Homo sapiens: one gene and its partners. The protein of the gene in region 4 purifies or fractionates together with the protein of the main gene of each other region. This does not show direct contact. Each region holds a gene or a part of one and is shown on either strand. Other genes may lie near its edges.

What was found.
Region 1: the proteins of FAM167A (region 4) and NYNRIN purify together in Homo sapiens (co-immunoprecipitation; 3 studies listed by BioGRID and IntAct, with this or other methods). This does not show direct contact.
Region 2: the proteins of FAM167A (region 4) and CEP44 purify together in Homo sapiens (co-immunoprecipitation; 3 studies listed by BioGRID and IntAct, with this or other methods). This does not show direct contact.
Region 3: the proteins of FAM167A (region 4) and NES purify together in Homo sapiens (co-immunoprecipitation; 3 studies listed by BioGRID and IntAct, with this or other methods). This does not show direct contact.

Annotation. Positions count from the first base shown.
Region 1 is NC_000014.9:24,409,003-24,412,502, forward strand, and holds part of NYNRIN (protein NYNRIN), read left to right. Parts: coding exon 1-1,206; intron 1,207-2,073; coding exon 2,074-2,204; intron 2,205-2,351; coding exon 2,352-2,448; intron 2,449-2,454; exon of another isoform or gene 2,455-3,500.
Region 2 is NC_000004.12:174,311,411-174,314,910, forward strand, and holds part of CEP44 (centrosomal protein of 44 kDa), read left to right. Parts: intron 1-3,500. UniProt on the Homo sapiens protein: Centriole-enriched microtubule-binding protein involved in centriole biogenesis. In collaboration with CEP295 and POC1B, is required for the centriole-to-centrosome conversion by ensuring the formation of bona fide centriole wall.
Region 3 is NC_000001.11:156,668,263-156,671,335, reverse strand, and holds the end of NES (nestin), read left to right. Parts: coding exon 1-2,014; 3' UTR 2,015-2,573; downstream 2,574-3,073. UniProt on the Homo sapiens protein: Required for brain and eye development.
Region 4 is NC_000008.11:11,421,546-11,425,504, forward strand, and holds part of FAM167A (protein FAM167A), read right to left. Parts: intron 3,092-3,959; coding exon 2,828-3,091; 3' UTR 1-2,827.

The DNA.
Region 1 (3,500 bases), on a different chromosome or scaffold from region 4:
GCTGCCAGGGCAGAATCCTTTGCCCTTAAATCTGGAGTGGAAGCAGAAGGAGCTGGCTCCTCTGCCTAGTGCAGAAAGCCCAGCTGGTAGACCAGATGGGGGGCTGGGAGGAGAAGCAGCCCTGCAGAATTGCCCAAGGCCAGAGATTTCCCCAAAAGTTACGAGTTTATTGGTGGTCCCTGGGAGCTCAGATGTAAAAGACAAAGTTAGCTCGGATCTCCCACAGATAGGGCCACCCTTGACCTCTACACCCCAACTACAGGCTGGAGGTGAGCCGGGGGATCAAGGGAGTATGCAGTTAGATTTTAAGGGACTGGAAGAGGGACCCGCTCCAGTGCTGCCAACAGGGCAAGGGAAGCCCGTGGCTCAAGGGGGGCTGACAGATCAGTCAGTACCTGGAGCTCAAACAGTGCCTGAAACTCTCAAAGTGCCCATGGCTGCAGCAGTGCCCAAAGCTGAAAATCCCTCCAGAACTCAAGTGCCATCTGCAGCTCCCAAACTGCCTACATCTCGAATGATGCTGGCAGTGCACACAGAGCCTGCAGCTCCCGAAGTGCCTTTGGCTCCAACAAAGCCAACAGCTCAACTGATGGCCACAGCTCAAAAAACAGTTGTGAATCAACCAGTGTTGGTAGCTCAAGTGGAACCCACAACTCCAAAAACTCCCCAGGCTCAGAAGATGCCTGTAGCAAAAACATCACCTGCAGGTCCCAAAACACCCAAAGCTCAAGCCGGGCCTGCAGCTACAGTTTCCAAAGCACCTGCAGCTTCCAAAGCACCTGCAGCTCCCAAAGTACCTGTGACCCCCAGAGTCTCCAGAGCTCCCAAAACACCTGCAGCTCAGAAGGTGCCCACGGATGCAGGGCCAACCTTGGATGTAGCCAGACTTCTGAGTGAGGTCCAGCCTACATCAAGGGCTAGTGTCTCCTTACTGAAGGGCCAGGGGCAGGCTGGAAGGCAGGGTCCCCAGTCCAGTGGCACCTTGGCCCTCAGCAGTAAGCACCAGTTTCAGATGGAGGGGCTCCTGGGGGCTTGGGAGGGGGCCCCAAGGCAGCCACCTCGCCACCTGCAAGCGAACAGCACAGTGACCAGCTTCCAGAGGTACCACGAGGCCCTGAATACACCCTTCGAGCTGAACCTGTCAGGGGAACCTGGAAACCAGGGGTTGCGGCGAGTGGTCATCGATGGCAGCAGTGTGGCCATGGTGTGAGTAGTCACGGGCGTGGGGTGGGCTGGGGATGCTGTGGACCTGGGGCAGGGCATCCCTGGGGGACAGAATGTGGGCATCCCTTCCCAACCTTCCTATGGGCGACATGGGGAAGAGATGGGAGGGAAGTGGTCCATCCATGTTGAATGGCTCCTGCGTGCCAGGCAGTGTGCATGGAATCCTCATAGCAGCCCTCAAGGGCAGGTTTCTGGTTTCCCTGTCTGATAGATGCTGAAGCAGGCTCAGAGGTGGGAAATCTTGCCCAAGATCCCTGAGCCAGCAAGGGGTCCAGCTGGCCTTTTGGCTCAGATGTGTCCACTGCCAAGGTCCATGCCCTTCCCAGGCCAGCTTTTAAACTTTTAGCCCAAACTTCAAGGCCCAGCACAGATTTCTTTTCCTGACTCTGCTGGCCCTTAGCGATTGCCCTTCCTCCACAGTACTTACTGCTGTAGAGGTGTTAGCATAAACATGTGCATGCCACATAATTTGCCACATGATAGAGTAGTTATCTGTGCAGAGCACACTCCCAGCACACTGTCGGTGGCCAGGGAATTTTTGTTTGCTTTAAGCCCTCAACTGAGCTCTCTGAGTGGAGGGGCTGCCTTCTTCCTCTTGCCCTCAATGTCCCTACACACATGCGTACACACAGGTACATGCACACACACACACACATGCACGCGCACACACACAGAGTTTCTGGCAGTGCCCTGCACCAAGTAGGTGCTCACAGAATGTCTGAGTATGGAGGGAAGGGGAGAGGGCATCATTGGTGTCCTTGGTGCTGGCATTGCTTGCTTGCTGCCCCAGGGCTGGCTCTGAGGGAGGAGTGGTGAGGCAGGGTCTTTCCTTGTCCCACGACCCCACAGGCATGGCCTGCAGCACTTCTTCTCCTGCCGAGGAATTGCCATGGCAGTGCAGTTTTTCTGGAACCGGGGACACCGAGAGGTCACTGTGTTTGTACCCACCTGGCAGCTGAAGAAGAACCGGAGGGTGAGAGGTGAGGTGTCCCCTGCCTGCCCAGCCTCCACAGTGTCACCAAGCTTTCTTCTCTCTGCCTTGCTGCCCCGACCCTCTGCCACCCCAGAGTGGCCATTTCCACTTAGCCCTCCCTTGACCATTTCTGTCTTCTGCCTTTCACCCCCAGAGAGCCACTTTCTGACGAAGCTACACTCGCTCAAGATGCTTTCAATCACACCCTCCCAGCTTGAGAATGGCAAGAAGATCACCACCTACGATTATAGGTGTGCCGGTCCCCAGGCCTGCCCTCCTGGGCTCAGGGAGTTGGGCCTGGCTGGTGTGTCAGGTGGAGTCCGGCCTGTCTTCTCTGGGGAAATGGAGGCAAACATGTTGGGGGTGTCGGTTGTGCAGAGGGTGGGGTGGAGCACGGGCATCTGTCAGCAGAGGGATGGGCACATTGAGGAAAGGGCTTGAGGTTGGCTCTCCCCAAGCCCGGAGTTGTTTCTGACTTTGGGACTCTGGAGTCCGTCTGCCTTAGCTAACAGGCATTCTTCCCCCATGACCTGTGAACATCAGAGAGGTTCCCCAGGGTTTTGGGTGCCCGTTTCGGTTGAGGCTCATGTCTCCAGACTGCTTTAGTCTTTTCCTCCCTCGGAGCCCCGGCACTGGTGGAGGTCTGTGCATGGCTGATGTGGATGGAGCCCTGGGCAGGGCTCTGGAAAAGGAGAGCCCTGAATGCCTAAACCCTGAATGCTTGCCTGCTTGTCAATCCTAAGCGCCCACCCCTCAGCATGGCTGCAGGACCTCTGTGCTCAGGGGAAGCCTGTGACCCTGCCTCTCTTAGGGCAGGGAAGGCCCTGGCATAGTCACTGGTCCTGGGTTGGAGTTGATGCTGGGCGGACAGAGATCTTGGTTTCACATAGGCAACTCTCATGCCAGGCAGGGAGAAGTTCTGTTTCTCCACACTCTTCCCAAGACCTGGCACCCAACCAGGCCTGGGAAGGGCTGGGCAGAGAACCTCACTCATCCCTCCTTGTAGAGCTGGTCCCCTCCATTGAGTCTTCAAGTGCCTTTAAGTTCAGGCGTGGGTTTGATGGAAGATGGCTTTTCCGCAGACCGTCCCTCTGCTGGGCACTTGAAGAGTAGCATGCTTTGGGGAGCCCGAATGGAAAGTTTCAGGGACTACTGAGAAGTAGGTAGCCTTTGCTTTCTTTCCTGGTCACAGCCCTCTTTAGAGGAGAGGTGATCCTTGGAAAAGTGGATTTGTTTATTCAGGTATGTGTGCTTATATGTGTTAGCGTATATATGTCTGTATGTCTTGGCATGTATATGAATA
Region 2 (3,500 bases), on a different chromosome or scaffold from region 4:
CTTTGTTTTGATTGTTATGTATTTTTAAAAGATCTAAATTTTGTGCCATATCTATGATTAAATCATAGCTATAGAAGAGATGTTTTGTCCAATTGAGAATTCATCGTTAAGTTAAATTTTTAATATCTGTGGATTGTTAACGTTATAAAATCTTTCAGCTCTACTATATGTGTAACAATAAAATAATATATATTCTAGCACTAACAGTGTGCCTGGCACGATTCTAACTACTATATTAACTCATTTAATTCTTGAAGTAACCATTGCAAGATAAGTACTATTTTTATATTTTACAGTTGAGGAAACTGAAGTACAGCAAAATTAAGTAACTACAGCAAAGGTCACACAGTTATTGAATTGTAGATCAAATTTGAATCCAGGCAACTGATCTGAAGTTTTTTCTTGACTGCTGCATATTTGGAGCACATATCAATATCATTGCACAAAGAACAATTTCAGTGATTAGCTTGTTAAGTATAATTATTTGAGATGCTATTTAAGGCAACTAAATTTATTATAGGCTGCAGATTTCAGATTTGGTAAAATGTTGCCTGTTTTATTTATCCATTCATATATCTATTCAACAAATGTTAATGCTTGAGTATAAGATCCTTGAGAGCAAAAACTTTATCTTATGGTCTGCCTGTCTAGCACACAGAAAGTATGTCGGTGCTTTTATCACCAGTATTTGCATATAGTAGAGTTTAAATATTTATTCACTGAAAGAATATTGAATGCTTGTGATTTGCAAAACATTGCCTTTTTCAAGTTTGATTTTGCATGCTCAGGCTTATTTTTTTTTAATGACATGATTATAGAATATACCTTTAACCTATTTAGAAAACACATGGCTAAGTTTTTTTTTTTTAATTTTTTAATTTTTTTGAGATAAGTGTGGTCTTACTCTGCTGCTCAGGCTGGAGTGCAGTGGTGCAATCATAGCTCACTGCAGTCTCCTAGATGTTAACTCCTTGGCTTAAAGTGATCCTCCTTTCTCAGCCTCCTGAGTAGCTGGGACTACAGGTACGTGCCACCACACCTGGATAATTTTTTATTTATTTACATACTGTTTTTAGTAAAACAAGGTCTTGCTATGTTGCTCAGGCTGGTCTTGAACTCCTGGGCTCAAGCAATCCTCCCATCTCTGCTTCTCAAAGTACTGGGATTACAGGTGTGAGTTAACATGTCCGGGTTCACATAGCTAAATTTCAACAACTGTGCCAGGACTGAAAGTAATTAACAGGCCTCTATCTGAAATGGATTACAGATTATGATTAGGTTGAATACCTGGTCTCATAGAGTTTATGATCTGATCTAGATTAATTAAAAGACTCAAGTTTATAAAGACTTACACATTATACCTTATACATGCTACTTGGAAATAGGGTTTGATTTCATTTGAATGCAGAGAGCAATAATTTACTACTCTGGGTTTAGGATCATATTAAATCAGGAATAGTTTTTGTGAGGTTCCAGATTTGTTTTGCCTTTATCAGGAATACAGTGTTCCATGGGGAATTGTAAGGCACCTTAATGTCTTGGTAAGAGTGAATTAGCAGAGGCTTTTAGGGATTGGACTTGTGTTGGATAATTTTGGAGAGGGTTTGAGGAAGCAAGGGCTACGGGTGCTGTCAGGGAGCAGGAGCAATTTGATGATTGATGGTAAGAATGAAATTTTTAGCATAAAATAAGTACTCATGTTAGGCAAGGGGGGCTATATCTGCTCATTTATGTGGTTACATGGTGCCCTTGTTTTGTCTATGTTCGGACATGAATGGTGGTTTTGGGTGTGTTGTTTCATTATGCTAATGAAGTGACCTCATGTGATGTTCTTTTTCATGAAATTATTTATATTCATTAGAGGGTACAGTAGTTTAGGTGTTAATTGCCAGACAGGGCACCAACTGTTAGTGCTCCTTTTTTATTTGCTTGTTTGTTTCGCTTTGTTTTGTGCCTTTTTTCCCTCAGAGGAAAAAAAAAAAAAAGGTGTGCTACCACAGAAGAGTGTGGTTTGTTCCTGTGTGACTAGCAGGAAGGGTACATGTGAGCACCTGAAGGAAGCTGTAGCAGAAGAGTAGAAAGATCAAGTCATGGAGTTTATCCCAGAGTCGTAGGAAGATTTTCAGCAAGGCTAATATTCTTAGGTTTGTGTTTCACAAAGGTTATCATCAAAGCAGAATAGTGATTTGTTAGGAAAGTAAGATAGGCAAGGATAATTTGAAGAGAATTTTAGTAGTCATTATTTCAGAATAATAATGAGGGTCTCTACTAAGGCAATGATAGTGAGGATAAAGAGCAGGTGATTTATTTGGGAGAAATTTAGATGTTAAAATTGATATGCCTTGATCCTGATAGATACAAAAAGGGTGAAGGAGAGTAAGGAAGGTAACACTGACTACTTGTGTTTGGCTCATGTGATTGGGTAGGTGATTGTTACTCTTTAATAAAATAAAAAATTCAGGAAGAGGAGAAGGTTTGGGAGAAATAATGAGTTCACTTTTGAATATAATAAATTATATATGAAATCCTTAAGACAGAATATCTAGAAATCAGTTGGATACATACATTGGTCCTTGATTTAGAAGTATTGGCTTACAAATTATTAAATGGTAAAGGACCCTACTGATTCCCTTCGTGGAATAAGGTGATAAGCCTCCAAAGATGGCAGTGAAAGATTAGTTGTTACGTGGTAAGAGTTGGGTAGAAGATTTCATGTCCCATACCCCCATAATCTTAGAAGTAGAAGAGTCCCTTTCTTTACAGAGACTTCTTAGCAGTCACTACTGAAGTACATAACAACTGGTGTCAGGGTCCTTGTGTCAGTGGCCATTGCCTTTCCCCTTTCCTTTCCAACCTGAACTCAGTTACCAATTCTTTTCTCAATCCCCTATAGCACAGCTAAGAAACTATTAATGTTTAAACAAGTAAGGCTTTACTAAAGGTTCAGGATAGCAATAAGAAAAAATATAGAAATTAATGTGCAGTTAACTGATCTGGCTATTAAATATAGCTGGTGTTCTGTAATGGTCCACTCTGTAGCCTCTGGAATCCTCTGTAGGAATAACTATGAATAGCCTGCCAGCCTGCCAAATACCAGCTTTCTCCCACCATGAGGCACACTCTTGAATAAGGTTAGACACCGCAAAGTCTGGACCCCAAAATGGAAGACAAAGAGAGCCATTCCTTCACCCTTTATCTGTCTTCCCGGACCTGTTTCCTTTTCCTAGGGCCCCCTCCTCTTTTTGGAAAGATGTCCGAAATGTTCAGGACAACTATCTGTACCCACAGAAAAAAATCCAAGATTTAGTGCATAGTAGATATAGTTCCTGCCTAATTTCAAATTATTTCTTAAAATAACCTCTTGTCCATAGCTCCTACTAAAAGATCTGGGTTTAGGTAGTCTTCAGAATTACACCCTGTAATCTTGACCTCCAGGCTTAGCTAATTGGATTAAGAGTAGACACCTGACCCAGAGAATTCCAGTTCAAAGTGTGATGAGT
Region 3 (3,073 bases), on a different chromosome or scaffold from region 4:
GGAAGATACGGTGGAGAAGGACCAAGAACTGGCTCAGGAAAGCCCTCCTGGGATGGCTGGAGTGGAAAATGAGGATGAGGCAGAGCTGAATCTGAGGGAGCAGGATGGCTTCACTGGGAAGGAGGAGGTGGTAGAGCAGGGAGAGCTGAATGCCACAGAGGAGGTCTGGATCCCAGGCGAGGGGCACCCAGAGAGCCCTGAGCCCAAAGAGCAGAGAGGCCTGGTTGAGGGAGCCAGTGTGAAGGGAGGGGCTGAGGGCCTCCAGGACCCTGAAGGGCAATCACAACAGGTGGGGGCCCCAGGCCTCCAGGCTCCCCAGGGGCTGCCAGAGGCGATAGAGCCCCTGGTGGAAGATGATGTGGCCCCAGGGGGTGACCAAGCCTCCCCAGAGGTCATGTTGGGGTCAGAGCCTGCCATGGGTGAGTCTGCTGCGGGAGCTGAGCCAGGCCCGGGGCAGGGGGTGGGAGGGCTGGGGGACCCAGGCCATCTGACCAGGGAAGAGGTGATGGAACCACCCCTGGAAGAGGAGAGTTTGGAGGCAAAGAGGGTTCAGGGCTTGGAAGGGCCTAGAAAGGACCTAGAGGAGGCAGGTGGTCTGGGGACAGAGTTCTCCGAGCTGCCTGGGAAGAGCAGAGACCCTTGGGAGCCTCCCAGGGAGGGTAGGGAGGAGTCAGAGGCTGAGGCCCCCAGGGGAGCAGAGGAGGCGTTCCCTGCTGAGACCCTGGGCCACACTGGAAGTGATGCCCCTTCACCTTGGCCTCTGGGGTCAGAGGAAGCTGAGGAGGATGTACCACCAGTGCTGGTCTCCCCCAGCCCAACGTACACCCCGATCCTGGAAGATGCCCCTGGGCCTCAGCCTCAGGCTGAAGGGAGTCAGGAGGCTAGCTGGGGGGTGCAGGGGAGGGCTGAAGCCCTGGGGAAAGTAGAGAGCGAGCAGGAGGAGTTGGGTTCTGGGGAGATCCCCGAGGGCCCCCAGGAGGAAGGGGAGGAGAGCAGAGAAGAGAGCGAGGAGGATGAGCTCGGGGAGACCCTTCCAGACTCCACTCCCCTGGGCTTCTACCTCAGGTCCCCCACCTCCCCCAGGTGGGACCCCACTGGAGAGCAGAGGCCACCCCCTCAAGGGGAGACTGGAAAGGAGGGCTGGGATCCTGCTGTCCTGGCTTCCGAGGGCCTTGAGGCCCCACCCTCAGAAAAGGAGGAGGGGGAGGAGGGAGAAGAGGAGTGTGGCCGTGACTCTGACCTGTCAGAAGAATTTGAGGACCTGGGGACTGAGGCACCTTTTCTTCCTGGGGTCCCTGGGGAGGTGGCAGAACCTCTGGGCCAGGTGCCCCAGCTGCTACTGGATCCTGCAGCCTGGGATCGAGATGGGGAGTCCGATGGGTTTGCAGATGAGGAAGAAAGTGGGGAGGAGGGAGAGGAGGATCAGGAGGAGGGGAGGGAGCCAGGGGCTGGGCGGTGGGGGCCAGGGTCTTCTGTTGGCAGCCTCCAGGCCCTGAGTAGCTCCCAGAGAGGGGAATTCCTGGAGTCTGATTCTGTGAGTGTCAGTGTCCCCTGGGATGACAGCTTGAGGGGTGCAGTGGCTGGTGCCCCCAAGACTGCCCTGGAAACGGAGTCCCAGGACAGTGCTGAGCCTTCTGGCTCAGAGGAAGAGTCTGACCCTGTTTCCTTGGAGAGGGAGGACAAAGTCCCTGGCCCTCTAGAGATCCCCAGTGGGATGGAGGATGCAGGCCCAGGGGCAGACATCATTGGTGTTAATGGCCAGGGTCCCAACTTGGAGGGGAAGTCACAGCATGTGAATGGGGGAGTGATGAACGGGCTGGAGCAGTCTGAGGAAGTGGGGCAAGGAATGCCGCTAGTCTCTGAGGGAGACCGAGGGAGCCCCTTTCAGGAGGAGGAGGGGAGTGCTCTGAAGACCTCTTGGGCAGGGGCTCCTGTTCACCTGGGCCAGGGTCAGTTCCTGAAGTTCACTCAGAGGGAAGGAGATAGAGAGTCCTGGTCCTCAGGGGAGGACTAGGAAAAGACCATCTGCCCGGCACTGGGGACTTAGGGGTGCGGGGAGGGGAAGGACGCCTCCAAGCCCGCTCCCTGCTCAGGAGCAGCACTCTTAACTTACGATCTCTTGACATATGGTTTCTGGCTGAGAGGCCTGGCCCGCTAAGGTGAAAAGGGGTGTGGCAAAGGAGCCTACTCCAAGAATGGAGGCTGTAGGAATATAACCTCCCACCCTGCAAAGGGAATCTCTTGCCTGCTCCATCTCATAGGCTAAGTCAGCTGAATCCCGATAGTACTAGGTCCCCTTCCCTCCGCATCCCGTCAGCTGGAAAAGGCCTGTGGCCCAGAGGCTTCTCCAAAGGGAGGGTGACATGCTGGCTTTTGTGCCCAAGCTCACCAGCCCTGCGCCACCTCACTGCAGTAGTGCACCATCTCACTGCAGTAGCACGCCCTCCTGGGCCGTCTGGCCTGTGGCTAATGGAGGTGACGGCACTCCCATGTGCTGACTCCCCCCATCCCTGCCACGCTGTGGCCCTGCCTGGCTAGTCCCTGCCTGAATAAAGTAATGCCTCCGCTTCAAAGTCTGGACTCTTCTTTCCCCCACTCAGAGGGGACCCTCAGGGTTAGTACAGGAGAGAGATGGCGGGGGCGGGCGGGGGGTGGCGGGGGAGAGGAGGAAGCTGGTGCTGGGGAGGGGCTGCCTCCTGAGGAGAGGAGGACCTGGGGGGATGAGGGCAGACAGACCCAAGCTGCAGGGAGCAGTGCTGGGGCCTGGGGAGGGCCAGGGGCTGTTGCTTGGCTGGGGGAGGCCAGTCCAGGTGACCTCAGCGCCTGCAGAAGCCAGGCCCATCATCATCTCTGCCCACAGTACTGATTACAGGGATTAGGCCTTGGGGCCACCCCCACCCTTGTATACCCCCCCCCATTAGTGCCTTGGTGCCGCCAGCATAATAAGCCCCCTTGTCTCTAAACCCAAACAAGTTGTCTGGCCTGATCTCCTCAGCCTGACTGGGTGGGAGCAGGGTGAGGGAAGAGGCAGGCCTGTTCTTCCTCAGTCTGGCTGCATGGCCTCAGGTCAGCA
Region 4 (3,959 bases):
AAATAATCATAAAAAATAAAAGTATAAATCGTCCATTGATTATGTAATAGCACTTGGTATTGCTACAGGGTGTGGGTCTTGAACTCGGTCAGGCATCGTCAAGCCTGCCCAGGCCCTCCAGGCCTCTTTGATAGCTACTGAGCCCCTGAAGGCATCAAGACATGACCACGCATGGCAGTGTCGGTGGAGAGTTTGCGTTTTACACCCAGCGATGCTTGGGGATGGCAGAGAGATGGATGGATAATGAGTACAACTGCAAACAGCACTGTACACATGTGGTGAGCCAGGAGGCTGGGACGGAGGTTAGGCCAATGTTGCTGCTGACTCATAGACCCACAGAGAGCAGGGACTTCACAAAGCTGAATTAATGTGGTTAGTTGTGTTCACTGTGCAAAGTAAGGAAGCCAGTCAACACTGGACGATGTTTAGAAAACATCGCTGTCCCCCTCCACTTCTCATCTTGGGTCACCTCCTCATCCCATAATAAAGTTCTCTTAGGATAAACCGAGCAAAATAGCTCAGACATTTAACTTATCCCCAAACATGTGTCTTGATCTTAGTTTCCACCCAGAGAATGAAGAAAGCAAGCAAGCACTGGGTTACCCAAGCAACTAAATCACTCAGTTGCATCCAACTTAATTGGACTGACTACATTCAGCTAAATCTTTCCATTTTCGCTGAACCCAATGGTTTCGGTTACTGTAATGACTGATTTCCAAAAAGAAAGAAAAACCTAATTTGGCATTTTTTCAGAATATGGGATGGGCTTTCCTGCATGGGTTCAAGGATGTTTATGGCATGTTCTCTGTCGTGTGTGTGTGTGTGGGGGTGTGTGTGTGTGTGTGTGTGTGTGTGTGTGTAGGTCAGCCCGAGACCTCAAGGGCTTATCTGGAAAGAGGTTGGCAGGAAAGGAATGCGTCTTCAGGACTTGGCAGTGTTTGTGCAGAGCTCTGAGGAAGGACAGCAGTACATGGTCCTCAGGCCTGCAGACTTCATTGCACAGAGCATGGCAGACAGTAGATCTTGGCTGCGTTGTTCTGCCTACTTTGAAGGAGGCATAGAACTTCTGGCTCTTTGAAATTTTAAAAAAGAGACCAAGTTCTTTTCTGTCTACTAGAGATCATTCATTTGCATTGTCCTACTCTCAGCCCACAAAAGAAAAGCAACCTCTCCCCTATGTGGGTCACGATGTGTGGGTGGACACGGGCCCCACTGAGATTACACAGGAAGAAGTCACAGTAGACAGAGCAGCCAGATGCCGTGCGTAGACCATGGGACAGTGATTAGTGACACATGCCCTGTGGGGCCACTGTCAGTGCCTTGCTCCACCTTGACCCAAATGTTCTGAATTGCAATACTCTGGGAGATGTGGGTGGGGGCTGAGGTGGAGAGTAGAGGGGTTGGCAGTGTGCGGGTTTGGCAAAGCATCACGACCATCTTTGGGGTTCAAGTTCATTGACATGTGATCTACTAGGCATTATCAATAATGGTTTCACACATCAATATTCTATAGCCTAAACAGCTGTGCAACCTGAGGGAAGTCCTTCTCCTCCCCCAGGTTTCACTTTGCTCCTTTACTAATGAGAGGACTCGACTAGATGACACCAAAGGTCAGAAACACTCCTTATCTCAGGATTCTACGGGTCTGGCCGAGGGACCCCTGCCATGCCGTATGACCCCAGACTGACCTCCCTAACCTGCTGGGGTCTTAACTTGCTGATCCTCAAGCCTGTTGGGAGGGAGAAACTCTTAAAATCAAATCCTACGCACTGTAGTTGACCTACACAAGTGGCTTCCGCATTTGGACAAAAATCAGTTACTAACAAGTGAACAACACATCAGTAACAGTCTTATTAAAACTAGTTGTTTAGGTCAGGCACAAAATCTCAGAGGAGGCTCAGGATGGGCCTCTGGGCTCCCTAGATTGTCTTTCCAGAGAGGGCAGTAAGGTGACACCACCAGAATCCACCAGGAGGCCCCGGTCACGCCCCTGCAGGAGAATTCAGTTATGGAAAATGCTTTCAGGACCTGCCTGGTTCAGTCACCAGTGGTCTCCCAGGCTGTCACCCTGGGGTGTGGGTGGCAGTGAAGAGGCTCTTTGGAGATGCATGTGGCCAGGGGAGACAATGGGGACATCTGTGCTTGTTGCACCCAAGCTACGCTAGTGCCCCCATCACATGTCCCAGCACACGCCAGAATTTACAATTTACACAGCCTTATAGTGTCAGGCTCACCAGAGACACTGGCTGCCAGCCACTGGGGCTGCGTCCCCAAGTGCCCATTTGTCATGCCTTTCGATTTTCCCTTCCTAGTAGCTCCCTGTCAATGTTGCTGAGTCATGTACTTAGGGTGAATTTGAGACAATACTTAGAGGACAGCAACAGCACGTGAGACAGGCACATCTGACATGCCTAATTTCCCCCAAGGCCCTTGCGGGACAGCCTTCTGCAAAAATGACAGCTTTGTTGGGGGGCCTCCCTTTGGGAATCCCAGTTCATAGCACCAGTGATTCCAGGAAACAGGAACGTGACCGTGGAGGGATGGATTATGGTGGGAACCCAGGTCTCCTTTAACATCTTGGTTGGAGCGGCCCTTCTGCAGAGCTCTTTGGGTAGTAAGCAAGAGCCAGTCACAGAGACACTGGCATCCACACCCAGGGCCCCTGGGTGGGAGAGCACCACTGAATAGGTCCTGGGGCCCTTGAGTCGCCAGTCCCAGGGACCCCTGCCTCCGGGAGACCCACTGGAGTAACTTGGCCTCAGCTTCCTCTGACACCCCTCCAGCCCAAGCCCTCCGCTCCAGCCCCTCCGCCCAGTCTGAGGGCTCCTCAGCAGAGAGAGAACCTCCGAGAGTTGATGTTCATCTTGGTCACGCCAATAAGCTTGAGTGGTGTGGAGAGGCTGAAGGAGGAGGCAAGAGGGGAGTCACAGAAGAGGTCGGCCAGCTCATCCCGCTCCTCCAGCTCGTAGGTGGCATCGTTGAGCATCCTCCTGTGGAGGCGGCAGGTGTGTTCGATTTTCAGCTTGTTGATGTCGCCACGCAGGCGCATGAGCTGTCTGGCCAGTTGCTGGTCCTGCAGCCGCATCTCCGTCTGGAAGGGAGGGGGAGCAGGCAGGGTCAGCAGAGAGTGGCTCGAGTCCCTGACAGGCACAGACTGGTTAGCAGGGCCCTGACTAATGTCTTAGTTCATTAAGTGGTCCATCTAGAAATATTAGCACTTTCCCTGCTCAGGGAGGTGAAAAGACACAGAAAGCAAGGTGACAAATGAGGGTGCGGTCGCAAAACAATACTTTGTGCTAGGCTAGTTGCTGTATCTAAGTCCTTCTGAAAGACATGCATATTGGTCCTGGCTAGAAGATACTTCCAGTGCTTTCTCATTGTTTAGAGTTTCATTTAGATGGAGTAAGAGTATAAAGGAAAACATAGGGTAACAGCTATCAAATTCAGGAGGATGGTTGCCTCTAGGTGAGAAGGAGGGACTGTGATTGGGAAAGGTATATGGGGGCTTTGACTGTGATGGCCATGTTTTCTTTCTTACGCTGGGGAGTGTCATGTTGTTACATTACTCTTTAAACGTTTTAGAATGCCTGAAATATTTCTTAGTAAAGTTTCAAAACAGCCAAACAAAAATTGGTTCCTAGGTACTGGGTGTTTTATTATGAAACAGTTCTAAGGCCTTTGGGTCTATTAACATGCAACAGTTAACCGTCACTACAACCTGTGAAGTGATGTCACCATCATCACCCACAGCTTATAGAGGAGGACACAGAGGCACAGCCAGGGAATTAGCTGTGTCGGCTCACAAAGCTCATCCACAGCCGAGCTGGGATGAGGAAGCCGGACAGCTGGACTCCAGAACCAAAATGACTGACAATGAAGTTCTGCTGCTCAAGGACGAGCTGCAGTGTGGTGTATGGAGCTAGCAGAGTGCTTAGTGACCTTGTAGAAGGTTCCTAATA